Linked DNA regions of Homo sapiens. The protein of the gene in region 1 binds, or shares a complex with, the protein of each later gene. Each region holds a gene or a part of one and is shown on either strand. Other genes may lie near its edges. The genes, in order: SAMHD1, CCNA2 and DCAF1.

The links.
Region 2: the proteins of SAMHD1 (region 1) and CCNA2 are in contact, whole or in part, in a cryo-EM structure (PDB 9HIW), measured with the Homo sapiens proteins. Residues at the interface, in NP_056289.2 of Homo sapiens: Lys615, Ser616, Arg617, Val618, Gln619, Leu620, Phe621, Lys622; in NP_001228.2 of Homo sapiens: Met210, Ile213, Leu214, Trp217, Glu220, Val221, Glu224, Arg250, Leu253, Gln254, Tyr280, Ile281, Thr282, Asp283, Asp284, Thr285.
Region 3: the proteins of SAMHD1 (region 1) and DCAF1 are in contact, whole or in part, in a crystal structure (PDB 4CC9), measured with the Homo sapiens proteins. Residues at the interface, in NP_056289.2 of Homo sapiens: Ser616, Arg617, Val618, Gln619, Lys622; in NP_001336097.1 of Homo sapiens: Asn1090, Glu1091, Asp1092, Thr1114, Gln1116, Asn1132.

What each region holds. Positions count from the first base shown.
Region 1 is NC_000020.11:36,911,552-36,922,205, forward strand, and holds part of SAMHD1 (deoxynucleoside triphosphate triphosphohydrolase SAMHD1), read right to left. Parts: intron 7,969-10,654; coding exon 7,813-7,968; intron 5,499-7,812; coding exon 5,398-5,498; intron 5,280-5,397; coding exon 5,171-5,279; intron 1,002-5,170; coding exon 910-1,001; intron 1-909.
Region 2 is NC_000004.12:121,817,230-121,828,483, forward strand, and holds the start of CCNA2 (cyclin-A2), read right to left. Parts: upstream 6,655-11,254; 5' UTR 6,400-6,654; coding exon 6,187-6,399; intron 5,418-6,186; coding exon 5,174-5,417; intron 3,863-5,173; coding exon 3,750-3,862; intron 3,537-3,749; coding exon 3,313-3,536; intron 2,351-3,312; coding exon 2,143-2,350; intron 1,685-2,142; coding exon 1,571-1,684; intron 949-1,570; coding exon 815-948; intron 458-814; coding exon 409-457; 3' UTR 1-408. Other genes in the region: BBSome complex member BBS7, read right to left, coding at 8,631-8,764, 10,917-11,040, 11,173-11,254. UniProt on the Homo sapiens protein: Cyclin which controls both the G1/S and the G2/M transition phases of the cell cycle. Functions through the formation of specific serine/threonine protein kinase holoenzyme complexes with the cyclin-dependent protein kinases CDK1 or CDK2.
Region 3 is NC_000003.12:51,494,744-51,505,287, forward strand, and holds the start of DCAF1 (DDB1- and CUL4-associated factor 1), read right to left. Parts: upstream 5,273-10,544; 5' UTR 5,130-5,272; intron 4,589-5,129; exon of another isoform or gene 4,147-4,588; intron 2,038-4,146; 5' UTR 1,991-2,037; intron 1-1,990. UniProt on the Homo sapiens protein: Acts both as a substrate recognition component of E3 ubiquitin-protein ligase complexes and as an atypical serine/threonine-protein kinase, playing key roles in various processes such as cell cycle, telomerase regulation and histone modification.

The DNA.
Region 1 (10,654 bases):
TCTTATTTATTCCTCCCAACAATAAGGTAGGTGTATTCAGCCCTCATTTTATAGATGCAGAAATGAAGTAAATTTTGATTTAACCAAGTTAGGAAGAAACAGTGCCAGGCTTTGAAACTAGATATCTCTGAATTACAAAACAACAACAATAACAACAACAAAAACTCTTACCGAAGAATTAACATACAAATAGGAGAAGGTATTCCAAGTAATCTGCTCATGACAAAGGATAGGTAAAAAATAGGAATGAAGATATACTTCCTCAACACAAATGTGAAAACGAACATGAAAAGTTAATCAATTTAAGGCTATTTTAGAGACATGGAAGAAGTAACTTGACTCACACCCAGTGTTTGATAACTCCTTATGGATCTTTGAGTCACGGAGAGACCTGGCTGTACAGTTTTCTGCTATGGTTCTGACTGGGTCAGGAAGAGGTAAAATTCCTGTTGGTTTTACCATTTGGTACTAATTTTGATAAATATTTGAAAGGATACAAATAGACATTAATCTTAATCCTTAAAGTTAACTTTTGTCATTAATCTCAGAATTTAAATATTCATGTCCTACCTCCCATTCTCCTGATGAGAATGGTGTGTAAGTGACTACCTGTGCCGAGGTCCTGAGTGATCTCAGCACTGCCGCTTCACGTCTGGCCTAAGCCAGCTCTTCTTCCCTTCATCTGCCCCTTTATCCACTTCCCTCCATCTGCCCCTTTATCCACTTCCCTCCTTTTCCTCCAACTAAATTAACTTTATGCTAGATTTTTTTTCTTTAAGGAAACCATTTTCAATTTAATCACTTAATATTCACTTGAACTCATCTAGAAATGTCTAGTTGAGCCTAGTATGATACTCTAGCCAAGTATCAAGGAAAATTTTATAGGGAAATGACAATCAAGTTTCTTACATTGTATCAATAATGTTGCCAACTTTGTGTTGATAAGCTCTACGGTGTAAAGAGTTGCGAGTGTGGAACATGTCATACAGATTTCCAACTTCCTGCAGGAAAACATGAAGTAAATATTAATAGGATCAGATTATGTTAACGTTATTAGAGACAAGTATATAGGACAAGGAAGGAAAAGGGATAGTGGCAGACAAGAGGGCTATGCACCGGGGCTTCTTCATTAACACCTTTGACCCCACTAAAAAATGAGGAGGCAGATTAGTAAAGCCATTTATTGGCTTGCAACTTTCATTTTTTTTTTTTTTTTTTTTTTTTTTAAAAGATGAGGTCTTGCTATGTTGCTCAGGCTGGTCTTAAGTGATCTTCCTACCTCAGCCTTGCTGGGATAACATGCATCAGCCACTGTACCCAGCTAACTTTCATTCTTTGTTTTTTTTTTTTTTTTTTTTTTTTTTGAGATGGAGTCTCGATCTGTTGCCCAGGCTGGAGTACAAGTCCTTCATTGCAAGAACTTTCATTCTTTTTCTTTTCTTTCTTCCTTTTTTTTTTTTTTTGAGATGGAGTCTCGCTCTGTTGCCCAGGCTGGAGTGCAGTGGCGCCATCTCGGCTCACTGCAAGCTTTGCCTCCTGGGTTCATGCCATTCTCCCGCCTCAGTCTCCCGAGTGGCTGGGACTACAGGCGCCTGCCACCAAGCCCGGCTAATTTTTTTGTATTTTTAGTAGAGATGGAGTTTCACTGTGTTAGCCAGGATGGTCTCAATCTCCTGACCTCATGATCTGCCCGCCTCGGCCTCCCATAGTGCTGGGATTACAGGCGTGAGCCACTGTGCCCGGCCAAGAACTTTCATTCTTAATAAACTAGGCCAGGTGCGATGGCTCATGCCTGTAACCCCAGCACTTTGGGAGGCCGAGGTGGGCAGATCACCTGAGGTCAGGAGTTCAAGACCAGCCTGGCCAACATGGTGAAACCCTGTCTCTACAAAAATACAAAAATTAGCCGGGCATGATGGCGGGTGCCTGTAATCCCAGCTACTAGGGAGGCTGAGGTGGGAGAATCACTTGAACCCAGGAGGCGGAGGTTGCAGTGAGCGGAGATCACGCCATTGCACTCCAGTCTGGGTGACAGAGCAAGACTCCAACTCAAAGAAAAAAAAAAAAAACCCTAAAATCTATCACATGCTCAAACTCTGTGACAGTTTCCGTTTTAGGCATCTTAAATTAAATATATATATATTTTAATCCTCCCAATAACTCTAGGAAATAGGTATTACTATTCTTATGTTCTTCATTCTTGACTTTTTTTTTTTTTTTTAGACAGTCTCGCTCTGTCACCCAGGTTGGAATGCAGTGGCACACAATCTTGGCTCACTGCAACCTCCACCTCCCAGGTTCAACCGATTCTCGTACCTCATCCTCCTGAGTAGCTGGGATTACAGGTGTATGCTACCACGCCTGGCTAATTTTTGTATTTTCAGTAGAGACAGGGTTTCACTATGTTGGCCAGGATGGTCTCAAACTCGGTAGCCCAAGAGATTTGCCCACCTCAGCCTTGCGAAGTAGTGGGATTACAGATATGTACCACCACGCCTAGCCCTTCTTGACTTTCTATAGTATAGTACTATACTACTTTTTGATTACATGACTGCCATCTAACAGGGACCTAGTGATTTCAGCTGTTTAACTACAGTTGACCTTTAACAACACATGTTTGAACTGTGAGAGTTCACTTATACAGATTTCCTTGCCCCGCTGCCACCCCTGAGACAGTAAGACCAATCCCTCCTGTTCCTGAGCCTACTTAATGTGAAGACGATGAGGATGAAGACCTTTATGATGATCTACTTCCACTTAATGAATAGTAAATATACTTTCTCTGCCTTATGAATTTCTTTCTTTCTTTTTTTTTTTGAGGTGGAGCCTTGCTCTGCCGCCCAGGCTGGAGTGCAGTGGCGCAATCTCGGCTTACCACAGCCTCCGCCTCCCGGGTTCAAGTTATTTTTCTGCCTCAGCCTCCCAAGTAGCTGGGATTACAGGCACTCGCCACTGCGCCCAGCTAATTTTTGTATTTTGAGTAGAGACGGAGTTTCACCATGTTGCCCAGGTTGGCCAGGCTGGTCTCGAACTTCTAACCTCAGGTGATCTGCCCACCTTGGCCTCCCAAAGTGCTGGGAATACAGGTGTGAGCCACCACGCCTGGCCTTGCCTTATGATTTTCTTAATAACATTTTCTTTTCTCTAGCTTACTTTATTGTAAGAATACAGTAGATGGGGCGTGGCGGCTCACACATGTAATACCAGCACTTTGGGAGGCCAAGGAGGACAAGTTGCTTGAGGTCAGAAGTTCGAGACCAGCCTGGGGAACATAGCGAAACCCTGTCTCTACAAAAAAAAAAATAGAAAAATTAGCCCGGTATAGTGGCATGCGCCTGTGGTCCCAGCTATTCGGGAAGCTGAAGTGGGAGATTTGCTTGAGCTGGGAAGGTGGAGGTTGCAGTGATCTGAGATCGCACCACTACACTCCAATCTGGGTGACAGAGTAAGATCCTGTATCCAAAAAGAAAAAAAAGAATATGGTATATGATACACGTAACATTCAAAATAGGCTGGATGCAGTGGCTCACACCTATAATCATAGCACTTTAGGAGACTGAGGTGGATGGGTTGCTTGAGCCCAGGAGTTTGAGACCAGCCTGGGCAACACAGTGAAACTCCACCTCTGTAAAATAAATTTCAGAATTAGCCAAGCATAGGCCTGTAGTCCCAGCTACTCGGGAGGCAGAGGAGGAAGGATCAGTTGAGCCCAGGAAGTCAAGGCTACAATGCACTATGATAGTGCCACTGTACTCCAGCCTGAGTAACACAGCAAGACCCTGTCTGGAAAGAAAACAAAAAACATACAAAATGTGTGTAACTGACCATTAAGGTTATCAATAAGGCTTCTGGTCAACAGAAGGCTATTTAGTTAAGTTTTTGGGAAGTCAAAAGTTATATGCAGGCCAGGTACAGTGGCTTACACCTATAATGCCAGCACTTTGGGAGGCTGAAGCGGGTGGATCACTTGAGGTGAGGAGTTCGAGACCAGCCTGGCCAACATGGTGAAACCCTGTTTCCACTAAAAAGACAAAAATTAGCTGGGCGTGGTAGCATGCATCTGTAAACCTAGCTAGTCACAAGGCTGAGGCAGAAAAATCACTTGAAGCCAGGAGGCAGAGCTTGCAGTGAGCCGAGATCATGCCACTGTACCCCAGCCTAGGCAACAGTGGGAGACTCCATCTCCAAAAAAAAAAAAAGGTAAAGAAAAGTTTTATACAGATTTTCAACTAGGAGAGGGGACAGCACCCCTAAACACCATTTTGTTCAGGTGTCAACTGTATAAAATTTTTCAACACTAATACAGTGATTAAAAATGAGACTCTGGGCCAGGCACCTTGGCTCATGCCTGTAATCCCAGCACTTTGGGAGGCCGAGGCGGGCAGATCACGAGGTCAAGAGATTGAGACCATCCTGGCTAACACGGTGAAACCCTGTCTCTACTAAAAATACAAAAAAAATTAGCCGGGCATAGTGGCGAGTGCCTGTAGTCCCAGCTACTAGGGAGGCTGAGGCAGGAGAATGGCGTGAACCCGGGAGGCGGAGCTTGCAGTGAGCCGAGATCGTGCCACTGCACTCCAGCCTGGGTGACTGAGCGAGACTCCGTCTCAAAAAAAAAAAGAGAGAGACTCTGGAACCAAACTTTTTGGGTTGAAATTCCAACTCTACCACTTGTTAATTATATGCCTTCTCTGTGCCTTAATTTGCTTGCCTGTTGAATGGAATAATAGTATCTATCTCACAGGGTTATACGGAATGAGTTGATCCGTCCAAAGCACTTAAAATGATGCCTCATACAAGCCAGGCATGATAGTGTGCACCTGTAGTCCCAGCTACTTGGGAGGCTGAGGAGGGAGGATCACTTGAGCTCAGGAGTTCAAGACTAGCCTGGGCAACACAGTGAGATCCTATTTCAAAAAAAAAAAATGCAACCAACCAAACAAAAAAACCCCAAAACCAGTGTCTAACTCAAAACTTAATAAATGTCCATGTTAATTTTATTATTATTTAATAATGCAGTAGAAGGGAAGAGACTAAAGATATTTACAAATCCTAGGAATTAAGTAAAGAGACTGACGATTTACCAATTATTCCAAATTGTTAAATGGTTATTTCCAAATTTCAGACCAGGAACAACATTCTTCTTATTGCCTCCTCTGGCACAGCTTACCTTATCTCTAGCACAAATACGCAACTCATTGTCTACTTCACAGACACGGGCAAACTTAATAAAGCGCTTGTAATCAAAATTATTTTGGATTCCAAGATGATGGCAGTCCCTAGAAGGATTCCAAAACAGAGAGATGAAATTTTTCAACAAGGAAGCTGTACCTTAAATAGTAATACTAAATTTATATAAATATTTTAGCCAACTTTTCAGAAGTGTTCAGTGCATACCTGGCAAAATAATCCCATTTGTCCACATCAATGCCATTTCTTTTATTAGATACTATCTCATAAAGGAAGCTTTTGTTTTCAGGACGCCCTTTATATGGCCACTGGAAGGCAAGAAAACCCACTGGAAGTTTTAGGATAGGCACCAAATCTATTTATAAACAAAGCAAAGCAATTTTATTAATCTGTAAAATATAAACAGATACCTGACTGGGAATATGAGATAAACTAGAAGGTTCTATTCTTTCTTTCTTCCACTTCATTTCAAAACTAGTAGAAAGGGAAAAGAAATGCTAAGGTATATGATACCCTATTGTTACCACATTTTCTTGTGCCACTGAAAAGATCTGAACTCTATTACATTTCCCAAAACCAACAACTTTTGTGTTTTCTTGGTTTATAAGTTTTTGAAAAATATAAAATCTAGGCCAGGCATGGTGGCTCACGCCTGTAATCTCATCACTTTGGGAGGCCGAGGAGGGCGGATCACGAGGTCTGGAGTTTGAAACCAGCTTGGCCAAGATGGTGAAACCCTGTCTCTACTAAAAACACAAAATTAGTTGGGCATGGTAGCAAGTGCCTGTACTCCCAGCTACTCAGGAGGCTGAGGCAGGAGAATCGCCTGAACTCAGGAGGCGGAGGTTGCAGTGACCTGAGGTTGTGCCACTGCCCTCTAGCCTGGGCAACAGAGCAAGACACCGTCTCAAAAATAAATAAATAAATAATATAAAATCTAATAATAAACTAACAATGCTTGAATTCATGCATTAAAACAGTACTATCTTTCAAAGTAGCTACATACCTAGTCTAAATAATATGCATTGTTGAATGTATTCTTTGAGCTCCACTTTTTTGGAAATAGGATATTTGCTACAAAACTCATCTGTTTATCTTATACTGTAAGTACACTTGTATATATTTGAGGAAACAGCCCTAAAAATCTCAGGGGGAAATTATTTCCCAACTTTATTTTTAATTAAAAAAATACAAAAGATCAAAAAGGAAACAAAACAGATTTTCCATTGAACTGGTTCAACTTTTTTGTAGATCTTCCTATAAATATTTCAAATATGATTTTTTTTTAAATTTGTAGACAGGATCTAGCTCTGTTGCCCAGGCTGGAGTGCAGTTGCACAATCACAGATCACTGCAGCCTGCCTCAGCCTCCCAAGCATCTGAGACTACAGGCATGAGACAGGGTTTCAGTATTACCCAGGCTGATCTCAAACTCCTGGGCTCAAGTGATCCTCCCATCATGGCCTCCCAAAGTGCTGGGATTACAGGCATGAGTCACTGAGCCTGGCCAAATATGTTCATTTTAATGGTTAAATAAAACATACACATTTACATTCCAAACAAAGTTACTTTAGGCTTCTATATAAAATACTGCAGGCCAGGTATGGTGGCTCACGCCTGCAATCCCAGTATTTTGGGAGGCCAAAGTGGGAGAATCACTTGAGCCCAGGAGTTCGAAACCAGCTTAGGCAACATAGTGAGACCACATCTCCAAAAAAAAAAATTTTTTTTAATGAATAAAATACTGCATATATATTCACTAAAAAAGAATTTATGGCCGGGCGCGGTGGCGGCTCACGCTTGTAATCCCACCACTTTGGGAGGCTGAGGCGGGTGGATCACCTGAGGTCAGGAGTTTGAGACCAGCCTGGGCAACATGGTGAAACCCCGTCTCTACTAAAAATACAAAGATTTGCCGGGCGTGGTGGCACACACCTGTAATCCCAGCTACTCAGGAGGCTGAAGCAGAAGAATTGCTTGAGCCTGGGAGACAGAGGTTGCACTGCGCTGAGATCATGCCACTGTACTCCAGCCTGGCCAACACAGTAAGACTCTATCTCAAAAAAAAAAAAAAAAAAAAAAAGAAAGAAAGAAAGAAAAGAAAAGAATTTATGCCAAGCACAGTGGCTCACACCTGTAATCCCAGCACTTTCAGAGGCAGAGCTGGGCAGATCACTTGAGCTCAGGATTTCAAGACTAACCTGGGCAACGTGACAAAACCCCATCTCTACAAAAAATACAAAAATTAGCTGGGCATGGTAGTGCACGTTTGTGGTCCCAGCTACTCAGGAGGCTGAGGTAGGAGGATCGCTTGAGCCTGGGAGGTGGAAGTTGCAGTGAGCTGAGATTGTGCCACTGCACTCCAGCCTGTGTGACAGAGTAAGACCCTGTCTCTAAAAAGAATTTCTGTATATATATTTTTGGGAAGTAACTTCTAACTAATTCAGTTGAGAGGTAGAAAAAAATATAAGCCTTTTATTTTTTGCATTAAACAGTAGAAACATAGAACTCATATTTTATCATTTAGCCTCTAAAATAGCCAAATGTATAACTCAGAAGGAATCATGAAAAGGCTAGATGAAAAGCACCAGTCAGTTAAAATTAAGCTGTACATAAACTTACCAATGAATCTTCGACAGGTGATTCAAGTGGTCCTACAATTTGTTCCTTTATAAAGCAAATATCTTCTTCAGGGATGAGACCATATTGTTCCATGACAGGCTTAATTCCATTAGAATTAATAAGGTGCTCAAACATCATAACTGAGCCTTGTTCATGCTAGGAAAAGTAAGCACAATATGATGTGTTAAAGATTCTAGCCCATTGGGAGCCCTGACTAACAAAATTATCCTCAATTCCAAGTAATTCTGAGATAAAGGTCTATTGCATATTAATTCTCTAGTTTCTAACCACAATCTTAGGAACATTTTTAAAAACCTGTCAGATTTTTCATTTTACTAGTAGTCTACAAACCTTTTACAAAACTTATTTCATAAACATATTTAATGCATTTAATGATATAATCATTTACAGTTCCTAAATGAATATTATAAGATCATGTAGACAGAATTACATTTTAATAAATATCATCATAAAATTGAATTTTATTTTTTCATCAGCCTTTGAACACGTGCAGTTATAAGCTCTGTTAGGCACTACCATCTAGTGGTGAAAAGGGGTAACTGCAAACTTGCCAGTAAAAACAAAGATCTCCCTTGAAATCTCCAATTGGCCTGTTTGCTCATCTCTCTCTGCTCACTCATTCACAATCAATGTAAAGGATCAAATGAACTCCTGAAGACATCTGCCCTTTCCTAGATCCTACCAAAAACTAACTCAAGATGAAAAACAAAACCTGAATTATCCTATAACTATATTTTTTTAAAAAAAGAGACAGGGAATTGCTCTGTTGCCCTGGCTAGAGTCCAGTGATGTGATCATGGGGTCACTGTAGTCTTGAACTCCTGGGCTCAAGTGATCCTCCCACTTCAGCCTCCCGAGTAGCTGAAACCACAGGTGCACACCACCCTACCCAGCTAATTTTTAGATTTTTTTGTAGAGGCAGGGTCTTGATTTGTTGACCAGGTTGGTCTTGAACTCCTAGGCTCAAATAATCCTCCTGTCTCAGCCTCCCAAAGTGGCAGGATTACAAGCAACTTGCCCTATAACTATTCTTTCCCCGCCCCCGCAGAAACAATTCTTGCTCCAGAAACTATTCTTAAAAACAGAATCAGGGCTGTCAGGCCTGGGTGCGGTGGCTCACACCTGTAATCCCAGCGTTTTGGGAGGCCGAGGTGGGCGGATCACTTGAGGTCAACAGTACAAGTTTGGCCAACATGGCAAAACCTCCTGTCTACTAAAAAATACAAAAATTAGCCAGGCATGGTAGGGTGCACCTATAATCCCAGCTACTTGGGGGACTGAGGCAGGACAATCACTTGAACCCAGGAGGTGGAGGTTGCAGTGAGCCGAGATCGCCCTGCACTCCAGCCTGGGTGGGCAACAAAGTGACACTCTGTTTCAAAAGAAAAAAAAAAAAACCCACAAAAACAGAATCAGGCTGGGTGCAGTGGCTCACATTTGTAATCCTAGCATTTTTTTGAGAGGCAAAGGTGGGAGGATTGCTTGAGCCCAGGAGTTCGAGAGCAGCCTGGGCAACAAAGCAAGACCCTGTCTCTACAAAAAGATAAAAAGATTGGCTGGGTATAGTGACATGCGCCTGTGGTCCCAGCTACTTGGGAGACCAAGGTGGGAGGATTGCTTGAGCCCAGGTGGTTGAGGCTGCAGTTAGCTATGTTCATGCCTGTACTCCAGCCTGGGCAACAGAGCAAGACCTTGTCTCCAAAAAACAACAACAACAACAAACAAATTGGCCGGGCACAGTAGCTCACGCCTGTAATCCCAGCACTTTAGGAGGCGGAGGCAGGCAGATCACGAGGTCAGGAGATCAAGATCATACTGGCCAACATGGTGACACCCCATCTCTACTAAAAATATAAAAATTAGCTGGGTGTGGTGGCATGCACCTGTAGTCCCAGCTACTCAGGAGGCTGAAGCAGGAGAAACGCTTGAACTCGGGAGGCGGAGGTTGCAGTGAGCCGAGATCACGCCACTGCACTACAGGCTGGGCGACACAGCGAGACTCTGTCTCAAAAAAAAAAAAAAAAAAAACGAATTGAATCAAGATATACGTAATTACAAAGAGGAAAAATAGTAACTTTATAATGGAGAGATTTGACAGACAATGCCTTAATCAAGTAAGCAGAATTAATATCATTGGTATTGGCTCAACTAGGATTTATGTGCCTCCTGAGATGATACACTATGAAGGATGCATCACTGATTTTTTTGGAGACAGAGTCTAGCTCTGTCACCTCCTGGGCTCCCGGGCTCAAGCAATTCTCCTTCCTCAGCCTCCCAAGTAGGCACGTGCCACCACACCCAGCTAATTTTTTGTGGTTGTTTTTTTTTTTTTTCCCTCTTGTTGCCCAGGCTGGAGTGAAATGGCGTGATCTTGGCTCACTGCAACCTCCGCCTCCCAGGTTCAGGTGATTCTCCTGCCTCAGCCTCCCGAGTAGCTGGGATTACAGGTGCCCACCACCATGCCCAGATAATTTTTATATTTTTAGTAGAGACAGGGTTTCGCCATATTGGCCAGGCTGGTCTCCAACTTCTGACCTCAGGTAATCCACCCACCTTGGCCTCCCAAAGTGCTGGGATTACAGATGTGAGCCACTGCGTCCGATCTGGACACATCACTTTTGTGGCATTCTACCAAAAATGCATAGCTTGAATCCATGAGGAAACATCACACTGAAACTCAAATTGAGGAACATTCCACAAAATAGCTCAGTTGCTCTTTAAAAAAATGACAAAGTCACTAACGATAAAGACTGAAGAATTGCTCCAGATCAAAAGAAACTAGAAAAATGGCAACTAAATGCAATGTGTAATTCTGGACCAG
Region 2 (11,254 bases), on another chromosome or scaffold:
AAATGAATGTCAGAATTTGAGGGTCTGTTTTCCTAAACCTACTTTAATTTTAGAGGAAGGCTTTTCACTTCCCATTATATAGTAAACCAAGTAAACTTCTTTACTAAGCAAAATCCTGAAGAAGTTAAATTTGACTTGCAAAGTTTTCCAAATCAATTTATTATCCTGACAGCTGGCATCATTAATACTTTAACAAAACCACTTAAAATTAGCCAAATATCTAAGACAGATACATATACAAAAGATATACAAATTAAAACCATTTAAAAAGTAATAGATACCATAATTTGTACTTGGCCACAACTTCTGTATTCAGAAATGATTGTAAAATTAAAACCTAAGTTAAAAACTGTACACCATATACTTTGAGTGATTTACATCTTAGAAAACAAAGGCAGTCTTTCATTGTTACAGATTTAGTGTCTCTGGTGGGTTGAGGAGAGAAACACCATGATACCTGTAAGTAGGGAAAAAAAAAGCATTTTTAGTAAACACTCACTGGGTAAAGGAGATCATGGAATAATGTTTGTACTCATGTATTGGGAACTAAAAAATGCTATTTCTGTCTGACCGACTTGATGGTTTTAGAAACACTGTCTGGTCCCTGAAACACACATGCATGCCCCCTTCCTTCTCTCTTCTCCCCCAGACCCAGGGCAGAAAGCATGAACTACAACCTTCTTCAAACACATAACCAATTTAGAGAACAGCTTCTCAAGGAGGCTATGGCAGATTCATGAATAAGGTTAAAATGTCAAAGATCTCTGAACCATAATCTAGAAAAGTAAGCTTCAATATCCAAGTTAATTCTTACTTTGAATTTTTGTACTTTTCTCTTATTGACTGTTGTGCATGCTGTGGTGCTTTGAGGTAGGTCTGGTGAAGGTCCATGAGACAAGGCTTAAGACTTTCCAGGGTATATCCAGTCTTTCGTATTAATGATTCAGGCTACAGAGAAGGGAATAGAGAACCCCTGAGTTTTGCTTTTAGTAACACACCAAACACAGTAAATAGTTGGCATTAAGCTTATGTTAAATTCCAGTACTAATCTTTAACTTTTCCAACTACTAGTTTTCTCAGGCCATTATTCCATCCCTCGATCCATTTTCTACTACTTTCCCTGCCAGCAACAGGTCAGATGCTTTTAAAAAAGCTCACCTTTCAATCCAAGTTACAACTAAGCTTACTACCTAACAAACACTGTTCAACAGGTAACATGCCTTAAACAGTATATAATCATCCCTCAGTGTACATGAGGGATTGGTTCCAGGACCCTTCCCAAATATACCCAAATCTGTACATATTCAAGTCCTGCAGTCACCCTTCCATATATATGGGTTGTGAATCCCCTGAATACTGTAGTTTCAGTCCACATTTGATTGGAAAAAAATCCATGTGTAAGTGGACTCACACAGTTCAAACCTGTGTTTTTCAAAGGTCAACTATATATATTTGAAGTTTTTCCAAGTAAGAACATCTAGGCAACCCTCAGTTTTGTAGGACAATTATTATTTAATCTGGCACAGGCATTTCAGTCACAAGATAGGTGTGTGAAGACCGTAATACATACCCAGCTTTGTCCCGTGACTGTGTAGAGTGCTAAATGAAAGGCAGCTCCAGCAATAACTGATGGCAAATACTTGAGGTATGGGTCAGCATCTATCAAACTTAATTCTCCCAAAAACTGGAATAAAAAATACTTTATGATCACAAGAGCGTTTAGAATTCAAATGTCAAACCTCTGCCTTCTAACCTAATTTTTTCCTGCCTTTGATAACGGCTCTGTAGCAACTCTAGAAAAAATATCTCACAGCCTCATCTTTAAACATATCAATCATTTTAGTGTTTTGTTCCATCCTCATCCTGTATTTTCCCTCCTTTATTAACTTTTAAAAAACAACTCTTCTGACTACCCATCCCCAAGATGTCATCCTTAGACCTCTGCTTCTAGTGCTTTCCTGATATAGATTATCTTTTGCCAGCAGTAGGCTTTCTTCCATACTGCAGCATTAATCTCCCTCTGAATACTAAATCTCTTCACCACTGCTGTACAAAGGAACTAGGTTCCTTTACAAAGGAATTAGGGCTTACCCCTAATTATTACCAAAGAATCACCATTCAACAAAATGAAAGTTAACTCACCATTGCTAAACTTTCAACTTTGCAGTTTGCAGGCTGCTGATGCAGAAAGTATTGGGTAAGAAACTGATTTACTGTTGGAGCAGCTAAGTCAAAAGTAAGGACTTTCAAAACTAGATGCTCCATTCTCAGAACTTGTTTCTTGGTGTAGGTATCATCTGTAATGTACACAAACTCTGCTACTTCTGGGGGGTATATTTCTTCAAACTTTCTACAATGAAAAAAGTTTTAAGTAATCAGTCCTAAAAGAGAAGCAAGCTTCCTTATCCCAGTTCTGAAATCCCATTAGCAGAATATGGAATGAATCCAAAATCCACACCAACTGCATTTCCAGACACTTGATCATCATTTCTAGTAGAGACTGGATAGCTAATTGCTAATTAAAAGGCCCAAATCAATAAAGGACTTTTGAGATATTTTCCCCAGTTCAGTCAAAGGAAGTAAATGAAAGGCATGAGACTTCTCGAGATGGGAACAATGCCAGAGTTCACCAAGTAGCTGAAAATTTAGGAAATACAAGTCTTAGGAAAACATGTTTCATGTTTTCATTTTTAAATTTAGTTTTTCTTTCTTTTTTTTTTTTTTTTTTGAGACAAGAGTCTTGCTCTGTCGCCCAGGCCAGAGTGCAGTGGTGCAATCTTAGCTCGCTGCAACTTCCACCTCCTGGGTTCAAGCGATTCTCTTGCCTCAGCCTCCCTAGTAGCTGAGATTACAGGCATGCATCACCATGCCCAGCTAATTTTTGTATTTTTAGTAGAGACAGGGTTTCGCCATGATGGCCAGGCTGGTCTCAAACTCCTGACCTCAAGTGATCCGCCCACCTCGGCCTCCCAAAGTGCTGGGATTACAGGCGCGAGCCACCGCACCCAGCCTTTACTTCTTAATAAAAGAGACACTGCTTATATGCCAGAAAGTAATATTGGAAGGAAAATGTTTTAAAATTTGTAACCTAGTGTACTATATCATGTTCAAGGAATCCAGTTGGGGGAAAATTAGTGTTCTAGATTAGAACAGTTTCATCCTCCTCCACTGCCCTAAGCCCCAGCACATTGCCATCCCTAAAGTAGTCACTGACTCTGCCTGGTGTATGTTAAAAGGTCACCATTAAAAAAATCAATTTCTTCCCTAGACAAAAGGTCGTGATCACTTTTAAACAAACCAAGGTAGACTTACGAGGCTAACAGCATAGCAGCAGTGCCCACAAGCTGAAGTTTTCCTCTCAGCACTGACATGGAAGACAGGAACCTATCAATGTAGTTCACAGCCAAATGCAGGGTCTCATTCTGTAGTTTATATTCTTCTCCTACTTCAACTAACCAGTCCACGAGGATAGCTCTCATACTGTTAGTGATGTCTGGCTGTTTCTTCATGTAACCCACTTTAGGTTTACATTTAACCTATTGAGAAAATTATTTATAGTGTTAAAATTATTCTAGTGTAAAAACTGCAATTAGATTATTTTACCATTAATTACGAGAGGCTACATGCTATAAACTTAACTGTAGCATTAGAATAATTCATTAGTTTAAAAATTTAAACATTATCCTCTCAATTTCATTTAGCCACATTTAACAAATACATTATACAAACTGGATTCAGAGAACCTTTACCTCCATTTCCCTAAGGTATGTGTGAATATCCTCATGGTAGTCTGGTACTTCATTAACACTCACTGGCTTTTCATCTTCTAATATAATTGACATGTCCATAGTATGTGGTGACTCTGGGACAATTCAAAAGATATGATTAAATTAATTGTTTGCCTATTTAGTTTAATAGCTAAAAATGACTGCCATGGAAGGAATCTCATATTAACAAAGCACTTATTTCTTCAAACTAAAAAGAGCTTCTCATGACAAAATATGTAGAATATTTTACCCTAGTCTCAGTATCTCTGTACATAGAACTTTGGAATGATTTTAGTTAATGAGGGAAAAAAAAAAAAACATATTGGTAGGCCCCTAACAGGAAAATGAGAATCAGGTATTATCTTAAAGTATCCATCTTCCACAACAGAAAGGAGCAAATGGCATGGTGGTTCTGTTAGGACAGAACACTTTTAAAATCCAAGTTTTGAGATAATATCTAAGATTTGTCCCAAGAGAAACTGCAGATCCCAGAGTCTGACATATATAAAGCACAAGTAGGCAATAGCTAGCATCAGTTAAATGGCCTCTATTAACAAGTGTTATTAAGAAATTAGGTTTGTTATGGGCAAATGGATTAACACTATAAATAATTTATTTTTTGTAGTATAAATTATTTTGAAGCAAAGAGTATCATCCATTATTCCTTTCACTTCAAAGATCACCTTGAGATTAAACATTTTCTGCAAAATTTTGATAAAAACACACAAATTATTATTTCCAAAGGACTTTTCCTGCTCACCCCTCCTTCCTCACAATCAATACAACTAAAACTAAAATGAGATTGGATTTAGTGAGCTGTCCAGTGACTCAATATCCCTAGGGCAAAGAAATAGTACAAACTGCAAAGAGCTGTTTACAGAAGCTACTTTAATACATGGGTAAGAGTAAACAGCCATGGTACAACTATTTACTTGTAGGAGGAAAAGTGTCACTTTCTGGTATCAGATGCTAATCCAGACTGGTTTTATAGAAACAAAATTATAAAACTGGAAGAGACGTTATGTAATCACAATATTTAAGACTGCATCTTCAAATAGCACTAAGTGATATATAAGTGAGTTAAATAAAACTGAAATCTATTCTCCCAACCAAGAACACATTTATGGGATCAGATTAAAATAAGCATTTAAGATCTAATTATAATTAGATTGATGTGACTGGCAGTGAACCTGAAAGAGCACTGGATAAGGATCTTTTTGTATGTCACCAAGTCAAGTGTTAGCTGTGAGATCTGAGATAAGTCACATCCTTTCTAAGCCTTGTTACATTAAACCTAACTCACTATAGTCAAAATGACTACATAAGACATCTTAAAATGCAAATCATTAATATCATCTAATAATTATAATTACCGTAATTCCACACAGATTTTCCTTAAAACTTACCAAAACTACCATCCATTGGATAATCAAGAGGGACCAATGGTTTTCTGGGTCCAGGTAAACTAATGGCTGAATTAAAAGCCAGGGCATCTTCACGCTCTATTTTTTGAGATTCAGCTGGCTTCTTCTGAGCTTCTTTTTCTGCTTCATCCACATGAATGGTGAACGCAGGCTGTTTACTGTTTGCTTTCCAAGGAGGAACGGTGACATGCTCATCATTTACAGGAAGATCCTTAAGGGGTGCAACCTAAAAAAAAATTAATAACTGGCTTTGAGCCTACTAGTCTTGCATTCTTTCTCTTATGGGTGTTGGCCTTTGCTTTTTCTCCCAAATACTCTATCAGGAATTAAACTTTCTGGGACAAAGAAGAGTTTCAGTATTCAAAAGAGAAGGGATGTTCCCATTTGTCACAGGCATTCCCACAAAGGCTATCAATAGATAACACTAGGTGGAATTATGCAAAACTTATCAGGGCCACAAGAAGGGTCGGGTGACAGGCCAATACGTGACAAGTTTAGGAAAGACAGCAAAAAAATTGTTGGTTCACCACTGTCGCCCGAGGGTGGAGCAACAGAGCAAATCCGGCTAAAATGGCGGAATTTGCCAAAAGCAAAGTATTTTGTACACGCTTTTCTAAAGTAGAGGTCATCTCTTAAGCGTGAGGAGGATAGGGGTCAGAGTCCTACAGCAGTGCCTGGGGTTTAAAAGTGGAGAGAAAGGCGCGGAGCTGAGCGAAGACTACACGTTTTAGAGCTTGGTTTGACCCCATTATGTACAGGCAGATGCCCCCTATAGAGAGCAGACCGGCAGCATACACACAGTGTTGGCGGGGTCCTGATGCTAATATGGGAGAACTCCTACTGTGGCAAACCACACACCAGCACCAACTGCACTCCAGACCCTGGCCCCCTTCCAAAAGCCCAGGACATGCCTTCTCGCCACTCTTCTCTGCCTGCTAAGCCAATGCCAAACCCTGCTCGACCCACCCTCCTGCAGATATCCCGCATCCCTTTACCCGTCTCGTCTTCGGCCTCTGCTGCTGCGCTAGACCCCGCGGGTTCCCGGACTTCAGTACCGCCAGCGCGGCCCGGGTCCGCGGTTGTTGGACGGGCGCTGCCTTTTCCGGGTTGATATTCTCCTGGTCCTCTTGGAGCGCCGTCTGCTGCAATGCTAGCAGCGCCGAGCCCGCCTCGCGGGTCGCAGGCCCCGGCGCAGAGTTGCCCAACATCACTGCTCCCGGGAGTGGACGGCGGGATCAGCCTGCGGCGCCAAGCAGCGTGCACTCTGCCCAGCCGACCACTCGCACCGACCCGGCCAAAGAATAGTCGTAGCCGCCGGTCGCAGCCCAGGCCAGCCTACCAGCCCGCCCGCTCGCTCACCCAGCTCGAGACCACGCAGGGCCGAGGAGGTTGCGAAAGGCGCAGGCAGGCACTGCCCAGCGTGGCGAGCCAAAGACGCCCAGAGATGCAGCGAGCAGCCCGCCGGAGCGGCGGCTGTTCTTGCAGTTCAAGTATCCCGCGACTATTGAAATGGACCAATGAAAGCGCTCGCGGCCTTGACGTCATTCAAGGCGACAGGGTCGCAGGCGAGTGAAGGGTAAACCAAAGGAAACTGAGCAGGGGCGGGGCAGGAGGGAGAAACAAACTGGCTGGGGCGGGAGAAAACGCCTGCGCGGGGCGGGGAGAGGTAGGATTTAGGGCCCGACGCTTCCGATTATTTTAAGCTGAGCCACCTAGTGAGCGAGGCTGTCCGAAGGCTGACTCTAAGCCTTTTAGGGAATTAAACGGAATTAAACTTTGGCGACTATCATTTGGGTTGCCCAGCCTTTAGCTCTGGGACGTCTAGTTAGCTTAAGTGACTTTTTCCAAAGGTCTAAAATCTGGGGCACGTTTTTCAGTATCTCCGATTCTCCGTTTTCTTATGTGTTAATAGGGACTAATAACTACAGTCATATGGTTGTTAGGATTAAATAATGTGCATAAATTATTTAACACGGAGCTCACATAGTAATACAGTACTCAAGTGTCAAGACTGTAATGTCATCTTAACATTTAGGCGTTTATTCATAGTAACCAGAAATTGTGTTTTATGCTTTTTATTTTTCCTAATGAAGATGCAATTAATTTAAGATGGCACCTTGAACTACTGTTGATATATATAATAAATAGCAGTGCATTACAAAATATTCAAATACAGTCATTAATTTTTTTCTATTTTTCCCCAAGCTGTGGCAACCAACAAAAAACACAATGACGTTCTAGTGACCTAGATATAATTATGTTCCTTTCAGAAGTAAAGTTTTTTAAACATAGTAAAAACAATATGACCTTATTAAAATAAAACTCTCTTAACTATACGTGCCTTTAACAAATTTTTATATTTATATATAAATATAAGAATATACAAAGCTTGCACATAACTAATAAGTATAATAGCATATCATTAAGAAGCACTGTTTTCTAAAAAATTCGTGAGTCTGCCCTTCTTGAAACATAAAGCTTATTTTCCATTATCTGTATGCCATTTTAAAACCTTTCAATATTCCCTTGAAATTAATAAATATGAATTAAGATTAATGCACAAAACTTCTGTAGCCTTAATGTCATATATGATAAAAAGAGATCTAGAAGATACTAGTGTAGGAAAATCTAAGATGGCATCACTATTTCTGCACTCTTCACTTGAAGCACGCTGAATAGCTCCACTGGTTACAGCATGTCTAATTAAGATCCCCCGACTCTGTGTAAGCTCTTCTTATTTCCTGGCTACAATTTATAGCACTGAGCCAAGTCCAGCATTTCCACAAACTGCAGCAGAGTCATAAAACACTACCAAGCAAAAGGAATATCAGTTGCAAATCAATCCTATCTCCTAGAAAAAACAATTGGTAGGTTATTTCCACTAGCTGGCAACATACATAGTAACCAGGACACAAAGCAAGTACCAGTACTTGGGTTCTGGTCCCAGCTTTACAAAATATTAGCATGTCCTCTTAATCACAAAATTTCACTGAGAATCAGTTTTCTTATATGATTTGACAAATTTTACAACAGTTGTGAAGATCAAATAAGGTAATATATAAAAATACATTTTGAAGCCTATAAAGCGGTCTACATGTTTATGTGTTTATGTACCTTGTAATACATTTGAATATATTTTAATTTTCCACATATTACTTCTCAATTTAAAAATTAAAACAGCCACTTGCCAAAAATTCATTAAAATCCTATTTAAATCATTCTACTTGTGTTTTAAAAATAAAAAGACTCTTTTAGTTTTAGAAAGTTCAATTTGTCAAAAGAAATAGAAGCATTACTTTAAAAAGCCATTATATCTCAAATATTTTTAGATATAAAAAAGCATTTGAAATTAAAGTACATACACAGTTAACTTCTAATTCTCTTTTAACATTTTTCATTTAAACAGACCACTTCTTTGGGACTTTACCTTATTTGTATGTCATGCTGCATCGAAGAATGAAATCAATGCATTTTGGTCATAACTGTCCAGAATTTCCAATAGAAGGGGTACTTTAGTTTTTACATTGGTGCCTTTAAACTTAAATTTATCTATGAAAAGATCAGTGATCATGCCTTTAAAGAAAAAACATAAATTTCCTGTCAGTGATTAGTTATATTTAATGACACAGTATTTCACTAAAGTAATTGCTTGATAATCTATTTTTAAGCACCTGTAATTCCATGATTTAACATACACAAACCTAAAAGCCATGTTTTTAAAAATAGTCATTTTGGGGGGATTTTAAAACAAGTTTCAAGATATAAATCATCTGCCTAATAACCCTCTTAACAATTGATTACAAGCTATTAATTCAGACAATCAACTACTGGCCATTTTTGAACTGCTATCAGTATATATAACATCACAACAAGTGGTATATTTTTTCCACCAAGCTGACCATTTTGACATAGTCTAGGCAGATTCTATTTTTAACAGCTTATCTGAATTAAAATATTCCACCTATATGTTGACCATTCTTGGGATTTGACTTGAAGGCAAATAGTCCTAGGTTCAAAGATCTGGGCAAATCATTTCACCTTGAGTTTTCTCATATGTAAAACAGGAATAATTCAAGCTGTCAATCCTTTATCCAAAAAGCTTGATGCAAGATGTATTTCAGAATTTTTCCTATTTTAGGAAGATAATGAAAGGAATATACTATGGTATTAACCCCAAGGGGACTGAGTAGCAGCATCCAATAGCAAAACATAGTACTATTTCTGGCACAAAATATACGGATGAATATTTGCACTAAGTGGAATAAAAAAGATATAACCTTGGGCTGGGCACGGTGGCTCATGCCTGTAATCCCAGCACTTTGGGAGGCTGAGGTGGGCAGATCACGAAGTCAGGGGTTGGAGACCAGCCTGGCCAATATGGTGAAACCCTGTCTCTACTAAAAGTACAAAAAAATTAGCTGGGCATGGTGGCGCACACCTGTAATCGCAGCTACTCAGGAGGCTGAGGCAGGAGAATTGCTTGAACCCAGGGGGCAGAGGCTGCAGTAAGCCGAGATCGCGCCACTGACTCCAGCCTGGGAGACCAAGCGAGACTCTGTCTCAAAAAACAAACAAACAAACAAACAAAAAATATATATAAAACCTCATGTCAGTTTAAGTCAGATTTTGTTATTAAATTAATTCAGATTAAGTCAAGATTTTGCTGTCAAATTATTTATGAAAAAAACTTTGGTTTACAAAGCTGTCTGGATTTTGCAATCAGTGATATTATGTACAGCCAATCTCATAAGTTATTATAAGGATAAAAGAGATCATGTGCTTGTCATGTAATAAAGGTTAAGACATTAAATATAGCTACAGTTTGTGAGAAAGTCTCTGGATATGTAATAAAAAATTCAGTAGGCAGGCTTAAGGATCCATGTGTACTAGTGATACCAATTGGCTCTACAGTGACTATGGAAGGCTTGGCATAGTGTAAAAGGCATGCATTTTGGGGTGAGAAGATTCTAATGCAGGCATGATCACTAACTTGCTAGGTGACAACAAATTCCTTAGACTCAGATTTCAGTTAAAGCATATGAAAAATGAAGATAATACCACCTACCTTGCAGAGCTATTGTAAGGATTAAATATCTCACCTGATTATGAAGACAGTGTAAATAGTGTGCTATATACAACAGGTCTTATGTAAAGATTGCTAACAAAATTGTTTTTCTTAAGCTGTTTCTTCCTTCCTCACTCCTTCTTTCCCTCTCCTCACCTCCCTTACTCTGTTTCAATACAATTTGTGAAACATTCAGCTTCTCACCACCAAAGTTTTGAACTATAAATTGACACAACACAAATACTGTATATCCTTTATTAAATTTTGCCTTAAAAATTTTAAATGCTGCATTTTTATAATTCACAATAGCAACAAAACATGACAATTATTTGTGTGAAATACAGTCTAAGCTCTAAAGGTTCATAGATTACATTCATTTTATACCAGGTTTGTTCATATATATAGATTAATTCATCACAGTATACTTATTTCTTAATATACTTGCATTTTATCAAGTAAAAGAATTAAATATTAAAAGTAGCTTGACAAAATACAGAAATATTCTGTGCAATAAATTTGTTGTCAACTGATTCATGACTGGTTCATGAATCATGACTGATGTAATCTTTTTATCTTTCTGCCCAGCTTCTCTTACATGATCCTTGGGAAATAGCCAGTTGAAAAGAAATATGGCAAGGTATTCTAGAATGGTCCACTAACCATAGAGTCTTTCAAGATGTGCAGGTTGCTTTTTGTATTCTTCCTGTAGGTGATCTGCCTCTTCTAGAATACAGTGATATTCTGGTATCAGAAAGTTCGTATTTCCCTCATGAATCTGTAATTCCTATTTAAAATGAAAAACAGAAGCACCTTAATATTCAAAATTCAATCCAATGTAATGTTAAAGTATTGATAATTTTAGAAATCCTATGACTTCAAATAATAATCACCAGTCCACGACGACACATGTACTTACTTTTAAAGCATCAATTAACTGCACTTTCTTAGCCAAAAGCAACTGGTACTCCAGCTTTGGGTGGATTAGCTTTAAAGTGTGT
Region 3 (10,544 bases), on another chromosome or scaffold:
GACAGGGTCTCACTATGTTACCCAGGCTGGTCTCAAATTGCTGGGCTCAAGCAATCCTCTCCACTTGGCCTTCCAAAGTGCTAGGATTGTAGACATGAGCCACCATGCCTGGCCTAAAACACTAAAATTTTAGAGTTCAACTTAGAAACATATACATATATACTTCTGGTATCATTTTCAGAACTTCCAACTAATCTATGCCTGAAGATAATTATAACTTTGGGAATAACCATTTGCCCAAGGAAAATATAAACCTTAGTGAGACCTTGTCTCTATTATTTAAAAAAATAAAAAATAGGCCAGGCGTGGTGGCTCACGCCTGTAATCCCTGCACTTTGGGAGGCCAATGCGGGTGTATCATCTGAGGTCAGGAGCTCGAGACCAGCCTGGCCAACATGATGAAACCCTGTCTCTACTAAAAATACAAAAAATTAGCCGGACGTGGCAGCAGGCGCCTGCAATCCCAGCCACTCGGGAGGCTGAGGCAGGAGAATCGCTTGAACCCGGGAGGCAGAAGTTGCAGTGAGCCGAGATTGCACCACTGCACTCCAGCCTGGGCGACAAGAGCAAAACTCCATCTCAAAAAAAATATTAAGAATAATAAAGAATAAAAAAATATAAAGGCAAGGCGTGGTGGCTCACACTTGTAATCCCAGCACTTTGGAAGGCTGAGGTAGGAGGATCACTTGAGCCCAGGGGTTTGAGACCAGCCTGGGTAACAGTAAGACCTTGTCTTTATTATTTAAATACATAAATAAAGGAAAATATAAACTTGTAACAGACTAAATAAAGGAAAATATAAACTTGTAACAGACTTAACTAATAATAGCAATGTGAATTAACATAGTATCAATGAAAGCAGTCAGCAACTGAGTGTGGTGGCTCACACCTGTAATCCCAGCACTTTGGAAAACCTAGGTGGGCAGATCGCTTGAGCCCAGGAGTTTGAGACCAGCCTGGACAACATGGTGAAATCCTGCCTCTATGAAAAAAATTTAAAAATCAGTAGTAGTAGTACTTACTTCAATGTTCGTTTTTTTGTGTTTGTTTTTTGTTTTGTGAGACGGAATCTCGCTCTGCTGCCCAGGCGGGAGTGCAGGGACACAATCTTGGCTCACTGCAACCTGTAGTCCCAGCTACCTGGGGAGGCTGAAGCAAGAGAACTGCTTGAGCCTAGGAGGTGGAGGCTGCAGTGAGCCATAACTGCACCACTGTACTCCAGCCAGAGCAAAAGTGCGAGACCTTGTCTCAAGGAAAAAAAAAAAAGGCCGGGCACAGTGGCTCACACCTGTAATCTCAGCACTTTAGGAGGCCAAGGCAGGCAGATCACCTGAGGTTGGGAGTTCGAGACCAGCCTGACTAATATGGAGAAACCCTGTCTCTACTAAAAATACAAAATTAGGCCGGGCGCAGTGGCTCACGCCTGTAATCCCAGCACCTTGGGAGGCCGAGGCCGGCAGATCACAAGGTCAGGAGTTCGAGACCACCTGGCCAACATGGTGAAACCGCATCTCTACTAAAAATACCAACAAAATTAGCCAGGCATGGTGGCACACGCCTGTAATCCCAGCTGCTCCGGAGGCTGAGGCAGCAGAATCGCTTGAACCCAGGAGACAGAGGTTGCAGTGAGCCGAGATCGCGCCACTGCACTCCAGCTTGCACAACAAGAGCAAAGAAAACAGTCATCTTCACCTTGTTATGCCCAAGACAATAAGGGTGCATTACTCAAGTTCTTAAGTGAGTTCCTTTAAGTGCTATGAAGAAATGATGGTCTGTCCAATGGTGACACGGTAGTTACCAATTAGTGAATATCTAGTATGGGACAGACATTGAGCTAAGTAATTTACCATACTTACATTATTCTGAATTTTCACAACCATCCTACCCTTTTTCACACATGAGGAAACTAGCTCAGAGAGGTCCCCAAGACCAGCTAGTACTAGGTAGAAAAAAGGTTTCAAGGATTCAAATCCCAACTCTGCTGACATACCTGTGAAGTCTTGGTTATTTAACTTCTCCAAATCTCAATTTCCTTATCTGCAAGATGGAAACAGTTGTTGTGCGGGGTTAAATGACAATATTGTCCCCATGATGGGATAATATAAAGCCTCAAGAAATACTTATGTAAAATTTTCTTATCCTAACAAGCATCTGCTAGGGTATTTAGGGATGACAGGCCTGCAACTTATTTTCAAATGATTCCACAAAATATATATATAGATACCACACACACAAATAGAGAAAATATGGCATAATATTAACAACTGTTTGCCAGGCACTATGGCTCATGCCTGTAATCCTAGCACTTTGGGAGACTGAAGTGGGTGGATTACTTGAGGCCAAAAGTTCAAGACCAGCCTGGCCAACGCGGCAAATCCCCATCTCTACAAAAAATAAAAAAATTAGCCAGGCGTGGGGGCACACACCTGTAATCCCAGCTACTCCAGAGGCTGAGGCATGAGAATCGCTTGAACCTGGGAGGCAGAGGTTACAGTGGGCAAAGATCGCACCACTGCACTCCAGGCTAGGTGACACAGGAAGACTGTCTCAAAAAAAATAAAAATAGGCGGGCACGGTGGCTCACGCCTGTAATCCCAGCACTTTGGGAGGCCTAGGCGGTGGATCACGAGGTCAGGAGTTCATGACCAGCCGGACCAACATGGTGAAACCCCGTGTCTACTAAAAATACAAAAATTAGCTGGGCATGGTGGCACGCGCCTGTAGTCCCAGTTACTCGGGAGGCTGAGGCAGGAGAATCGCTTGAACCCGGGAGGTGGAGGTTGCAGTGAGCCGAGATTGCACCACTGCACTCCAGCCTGGGCAACAGAGCAAGACTCCGTCTCAAAAAAAAGAAAAAAAAATTTTTTTTAAATTGACAGGCACAGTGGCTCAAGCCTGTAATCCCAGCAATTTGGGAAGCCAAGTCGGAAGGATTGCTTGAGGTCAGCTGGGCAACATTTTGAGACACAGTCGACACAAATATTTAAAAATTAGCCAATCATGTTAGCCTGTGACTGCGGTCCTAGTTACTCAAGAGGCTGAGGCAGCAGGCTCCTTTGAGCCCAGGAGTTGTTGGAGGCTGCAATGAGTTATGATGACACTCGAGACCATCATGGCTAACACGGTGAAACCCTGTGTCTACTAAAAATACAAAAAATTAGCCGGGCGTGGTGGCAGGCACCAGTAATCCTAGCTACTTGGGAGGCTGAGGCACGAGAATGGCGTGAACCTGGGAGGCGGAGCTTGCAGTGAGCTGAGATCGCGCCACTGCACTCCAGCCTGGGCAACACAGTGAGACTCTGTCTCAAAAAAAAAAAAAAAAAAAAAAAAAAAAAAAAGCCAGCGCAGTGGCTTACATCTGTAATCCCAGCACTTTGGGAGGCCGAGGTGGGCAGATCACGAGGACAAGAGCTTGAGACCAGCCTGGCCAATATGCTGAAACCCCATCTCTACTATAAATACAAAAATTATCCGGGCGTGGTGGCGCGTGCCTGTAGTCCCAGCTACTCCGGAGGCTGAGGCAGGAGAATCACTTGAACCTGGGAGGCGGAGGTTGCAGTGAGACAAGATCGCGCCACTGCACTCTAGCTGGGGCAACAGAATGAGACGCTGTCTCAAAAAAAAAGAAAAAAGAAAAAAAAAAAAAAAAGAGTTATCACACCACTGCACTCCAGCCTAGGCTACAGGGCAAGATCCTGTATCTAAAAAAACAGGCCAGGTGTAGTGGCTCATGTCTGTAATTCCAACACTTCGGGAGGCTGACCAGGGAGGATCACTTGAGTTCAAAACCAGCCTGGGCAACATACTGAGACCACTGTCTCTATAAAAAATAAATGAATAAAAATAAAAAATTTTAAAACTGTATAATAGGCAGAACAGTAAAACACTGTACTCAGCAACTACGCAAGAGATACTAAGTACAAAATGATTTCCCTACATTCCCCAAATTCTCTATTATCTCTTTAACATCCAAAAATATATACCCACTCAAAAATGGGTAATGAATAAATGTTATATAGAAAACCCAAATGGTCACATCATTAAGAAAAATACTAAATAGATCCTAAAATCTAAATATACACATTTACATAAACATTAAAGGTAAACTCCAGTAAGCTGGAAAAAGAAAATGCAGGATGATATTACCAATTAACCTCTCATTCTGTACATTAACGATGCATTTTGAACAGGAAGATGCTACTAATATAAAAAATTAAGACATGTAAACTAATTAAAAGGCTTCATCAAAAAAACAGGGTAAGGAAAAACCAAGACCAACATGACATGGCCAAGGACGAGTCATTTGTGACTCAAAAATAGCTAAATACAAACACTCCAAAACTATTTCCTCAACAAATGGAAAACCAGAGCGCTGCCACCGCAGTAAGAGGAAACCAGACAGAAAACCGTCTAAGAAGTGAAGTTGTTAAGCAAACGCTTCTGACACCCCAGTTGAAAACTACTATAACCCCCGGAAATAGACTCCAGGGAAGCTTCGCGGGCACTCTGAGGTTTGACTCCAGGCTGCGGGACCCGCACACCTCTCTTTCCAACCCTTCCCTCTTTCATGGGGATGGGAGGAGCGCCCGGAAAGCTCCGCCCCCGTCGCACGGTCCAAGAGGCAGGCGGGTGCAGGGAGAGGTGGCACGAGGCCGAGAGACGGGAGAGCCCGCCCAGGTGACTGGAGCTGGAGGCGGAGACACAGTCCGGGAAGGGGCCCGCCGTATAGTACGGAAGATGGAGCCCCGCAAGCCCGTACGGAACAGAGACTAGGAGGATTGGAAGGAAAAAGAAAACAAGGGAAATGAAATGCGCCCCTCCTCCAGGTAGGGGCGGACACACCCCGCCCCCCCACTCCGGGCGGAAGAGTTACTCTCGGGAAGCTTCTCGTGGGGAGTGGAGGAAGAACGTGGAGGCCCCGCCCCCAGGACAAGAATCAGGAGGAGGAAAAGTCCTGTCAGGCCCCGGGCCCAGCCTCCCGGCAGACCGGCCCGCCCCCTCCTCGCCGGCGGCCCAAGCAGGTGCCGCCCCTCCCCCAAGCCCGGCGCCCACTCTGCCGCCCGGCCAGCCGCGCGACCTGCTTCCTCGCGCCCCTCCCGTAGAGTCGCCTCCCTCCATTTCCCACTCACCGTCCGAGGCGGCTCCGCCGCTGCCCCCCCCCGACCCCGCCAGTGGCCACAGTTCACACACACACAGCCTCAGGTCCCGCACTCACTCTCCACTCACACACACACACAGCGCGACCACGGCTCCACAGCGGCCCACATATTATGCGTCACTCGCGCGCTACGTGCACCGCGCGCGCGCGCTCGCGCCTACTTGGCGCGAGGACCGCGAGCAAGGGGCGGGAAGAGAACGCCTGCACGATCGGGGAAAAAAAAAAAAAAAAAAAAAAAAAAAAAAAAAAAATCGAAGAGCCCCGGGGACGCCTGGGAAATGAAGTTCCGCGTCTAGGGGCGGGCCCACCAGTCCCAATTGACGCATGAGCTCTTCGCCTGGCGCATTGACTTCTGGATTTGTAGTTTTTTTGGATAAATGCGAACTGCTGAGTACTCATTGGCTGCTTCGGAAGGCGGAAGTGAAAAGTGAGGGAGCCAATCCTTCTAAGACAGTACTGTAATCGCCTGATACTTTTTCAGTGTCTTGTTCTGACCTGTGTGCGCAAAGAGCCTCTGTTTTATTTGGCCATTTGCCTTATCTTACCTAGAACATACCGTGATCTAAGAAAATATTTCTCATAAACATATCAGAAATCACAGCACTCATTAAATCAGAAGGCACTGGTTGTTTTTTGTTTGTTTTGTTTTGTTTTTTTGAGACAGAGTCTCGCTCTGTTGCCCAGGCTGGAGTGCAGTGACGATCTCAGCTCACTATGACCTCCGCCTCCCGGGCTCAAACAGTCCTCCCACCTCAGCCTCCAGCTGAGACTACAGGCGCATGCCACCACACCCAGCCAATTTTTGTTTCTGTTTTGTATGTGCGTGTTTGGTAGAGACATGGTTTTGCCGTGTTGGCCAGGCTGTTCTCGAACTCCTGGGCTGAGTTCTCCCAGCCTCTTTTTTCTCTGTCTTTTTTTTTTTTTTTTTTTGACAGGGTCTCGCTCTGTCATCCACGCTGGAGTGCAGTGGCGCGATCACAGCTCACTACAGCCTCAATCAACCTCCTGGGCTCAAGCTATCTTCTCACCTCAGCCTCCCAAGTAGCCGGGGCTACAGGTGTGCACCACCACACCCGGCTAATTTTTAAAAATTTTTGTAGAGACGAAGTCCCACTGTGTTGTCCAGGTTGGTCTTGAATTTCTAGGCTCAAACGATTCTCCTGCCTCGGCCCCCCGAAGTGTTGGGATTACAGGCATGAGCCACTGCACCCAGCCTCTGTCTTTTTGTTCAAGACCTAGCCTGTAAGAATCAATAGATACTTATTGCCAGGTTATTATACGTGAGGCAGAGAAGTGAAAAATCAAAAGCTCATAGATTAAGGCAGGACTGACCTCACAGGTCACTTAATTCAATTTCTTCATGTTGTTGGGAAAAATGAGGCCCAGAGGGAGTGAGCGACTTGCCCAGCATCACACAACCAATTAACAGCAGAACCAGAGGACTCCTTACTCTGACCAGCAGTCCCTCTTGTGGGGCATAGAAGATAAACATGACCCACAGTTGAGCAGAATCTCGACCTGACAAGATCCTACCCAGCGTTCAAGGCCTTATGCAGCTCATTATCTCTCCGGGAATGCTGAGCAAGTCTCCGTGCATCTCCATGAGTCTTCACGGCAATACTGTCACATGAATACAAGACACAGCAAGCCTGCTGCTATGCTCAGGCTCGACAGCTAGTAAGGATCCTGAATCCTGGGTCCCTTGGTTTCATTCCCCACTAGATCCCATTTCCCTCTTTCCAGAAAAGGGACCATCCTCCTTCTCTTAAATGTGTAACTTGGAGCTACTGCTCCAAGCAGAGATTCTCTAATATGTGCTGGGAGCGCCACAGACATGTCACCTTTCTTCACTTCTTTCTCCTGCCACAACACACAGGTCCCTTCTCTGTGCTTCTGGAACTCTACCTCTGTCAGTAATGGCCAGTACCATTTCTTTCAACTTCAGAGCATGCTGGGCCCTGAGCCAAGTGTTCCAGCCACACTCTCTCATTTAACCCTCACTACCCTGCCACACACACAGGGAAGATATGGTTAATCACCTTTACAGATGAGAAATCTGGACCCAGAGAGGTAGAACAAGGAATGGAACCCACATGCCATTCCTCCAGCACTCCTTCAGGTGACTTTCCTGCCATGCCTCCCTGGGCCATGAACCTAAAATGTATGAGGATGGGACATTTAAGCCTTGGATATCTCCCCTCTGACTATGGTCTAGCCGGCCCAGTGGTGACTTCTCCGCTGGCTGGGGTCCTAAGAGGCAGAGCCCTTAGGGGAGCTCAAGGCTTAGCTCACGCGCTCCTGGCACTGCCTCAGTCTGCCACCAGATGGCACTGCTTCATTTCAGAAACCCAACCTGGTCAGAGCACTGTGGCTCATGCCTGTAATCCCAGCACTTTGAGGGGCTGAGAATCTCTTGATCCCAGGAGTTCAAGACCAACCTGGGCAACATAGAGAGACACCCCCACCCTCACCCTTGCTCCACTGTCTCTACAAAATATCTTAAAAATTTGCCGGACGTGGTGGTGCATGCCTGTAGTCCCAGCTATTTATGAGGCTGAGGTGGGAGGATTGCTTGAGCTTGGGAGGTTGAGGCTACAGTGAGCTGTCATTGTGCCACTGCACTCCAGCCTGGGTGACAGAGAGAGACTCTGTCTCAAAAAAAAATTTTTTTTTAATTTTTTTAAAAAACAAACCCAGCCTGGGGCCCTGGGTTGGTGATGGGAGCAAGAAGCATTAAGAAGGGGCTTTGGAGAAGCCAGGGCCTAGGAGGCAGGGGAAGCAGGGGAGGAGACAAACAAGGCCTCTCCAGCAGCCACGCCCTCAGGAATCTGCACTCTTAACTCCTGCAGCCTCCTCTACCCCTGCCAACACCTCCCCCTCCCCAACATGCACATAGCCACACACCTGCAGACACCTTCAAACACCTCCTTCCCACTTCTGGGAAAAAGAAGAGGGAGCACCCAGGCTTTCCCAACTGCACACGCATTCCAAGTGTGCTTGGTGGCATATTTCACAGATACCCACATGTGCCAGATATACAAGCATGCACACTGTGCATTAGGCACCCAGTCCTCACAACAAATACTTTCACATCTAAGCATATGCACACACAAAGCTACAGACAATCCAGGCCCACACACCTGGCTTGGTTGTGGCACATGGGTCCTGCACCATTGGGAGGAGATTTATTGACCTCTTTGGTAGGACATCTCTGGACTCCGTCTCACCTTGCTCTGCCTGTTCCACCCCCTGCTCCATGGTGTGCCCAAGAAAGAGGAAGCCCCATCTGAAAGAGTGAGGAGTGCTTTGGGGGCTGCCCAGCAGCAGAGAAAAGGTAAGAAGAGCCCAGCCCTGGCCCCAGGACCAAGGCCTACAGATTAGCATGCTCTACCTACTCCCACCTCCAAGCACACCCACTCCCTGGGTAGGAAGATGGACAGCACCAAGTCCTCTAGGCTTCAAGCTTCTCCTTCATTCTCCTCCTTCTCCCGCTCCCATCCTTCTATGAGCTTTTCACTCCCAGCACCTCCTTCTAGGCTTACCCAGGTGCTCCCACAAGCCCATCCTCACCCTGGTGCCACCCCACAACTCCTGCGCTTCCTCCAGCAATTCCCTTCCCTGGGGCTGGGAAGTGAGGTCAGCTGTCCCATATCCACCCCTGCTCTCCTGTTGGCTAGACAAGACTGCTACTGCAAGTGTCCAGCAGTGTCGCAGGAGCCACCAATTAGAGGCTTAAGGCTACCAGGCTTTGGGAACACCAGCCTGGACAAAGAGGAAATCCCAATCATTCACTGGGTACCCTACTCCTGCCTGGTGGCCCCTGTACCCCACCCCCAGAAAATGAGGAGAGGGAACGCCACATCATTTCCCAAAGGGTGTGTAATTATGTCTGATTACATCCACATCCACTACTCTCACTTTACAGAGAAAGAAACAAATTCCACAAAGTCAACAACTTAAGTGCCCACATCGATCAGTGGGCACAGATAAAGAGGAGATAAAAAAGCAAGCATACCTAGCCTCTTTTGCCTCAGGTTCCTGGGGTTGGAAATCCTTCCAGGAGGAAGAGTGGAGTCAACATTGGGGAGAGAGTCTGTATTGGCCTTGGCTCCAAGCTCTCAGAAGCCCCTGAACATTTTTTTTTTTTTTTTTTTGAGATGGAGTCTGGCTCTGTCGCCCAGGCTGGAGTGCAGTGGCACAATCTCAGCTCACCGCAAGCTCCGCCTCCTGGTTCAGGCCATTCTCCTTCCTCAGCATCCTGAGTAGCTGGGACTACAGGCGCCCGCCACCACGCCTGGCTAATTTTTTATATTTTTAGTAAAGACGGGGTTTCACTGTGTTAACCAGGATGGTCTCGATCTCCTGACCCCGTGATCCGCCCGCCTCTGCCTCCCAAAATGCTGGGATTACAGGCGTGAGCCACCGCGCCTGGCAACCCCTGAACTTTTATTTATTTATTTATTTTGAGATGGAGCCTCACTCTGTCCCCAGGCTGGAGTGCAGTGAAGCAATCTCGTCTCACTGCAACCTCTGCATCCTGGGTTCAAGTAATTCTCCTGCCTCAGCCTCCTGAGTAGGTGGGATTACAGGTGCCCGCCACAACACCTGGCTAATCTTTGTATTTTTAGTAGAGATGGGGTTTCACCATGTTGGCCAGGCTGGTCTCGAACTCCTGACCTCAAGTGATCCACCCACCTTGGCCTCTCAAAGTGCTGGGATGACAGGTGTGAACCACCATGCTTTGGCCACTCCTGGATTTTTAGAAAGACCATTCTACAGGATTCAGGGAATAGACCATTCTACAGGATTCAGGGATCTCTGGCCTGACCCATTTGAAGGTACTCTGGAGACTGCTGGGGCAGACCCTCATGATGACTCAGGTCAGAAAGAGTTTACCACTCTATCAGTTATTTCATTTCAAGAAGGCCTGGGCCTGGCACGGTGGCTCACACCTGTAATTCCAGCACTTAGGGAGGCTGAGGCAGGTGGATCATTGAGCCTAGGAGTTCAAGACCAACCTGGGCAACATAGTGAGACTCTATCAGTATAAAAAATAATAAAAATAAAAATAATTCTTACAGCCAGGCGTGGTAGCTCACGCCATAATCCCAGCACTTTAGGGGGGCAAGGCAGGTGGATCACCTGAGGTCGAGAGTTCGAGACCAGCCTGGCCAGCATGACAAAACCCCATCTCTACTAAAAAATTACAAAAATTAGCCAGGTGTGGTGGTGCATGCCTGTAATCCCAGCTACTCAGGAGCCTGAGGCATGAGAATTGCTTGAACCCAGGAGGCGTAGGTTGCAGTGAGCCGAGATCACACCACTGCACTCCAGCCTAGGCAACAGAGTGAGATTCTGTCTCAAAAAATAATAATAATAAAAATAA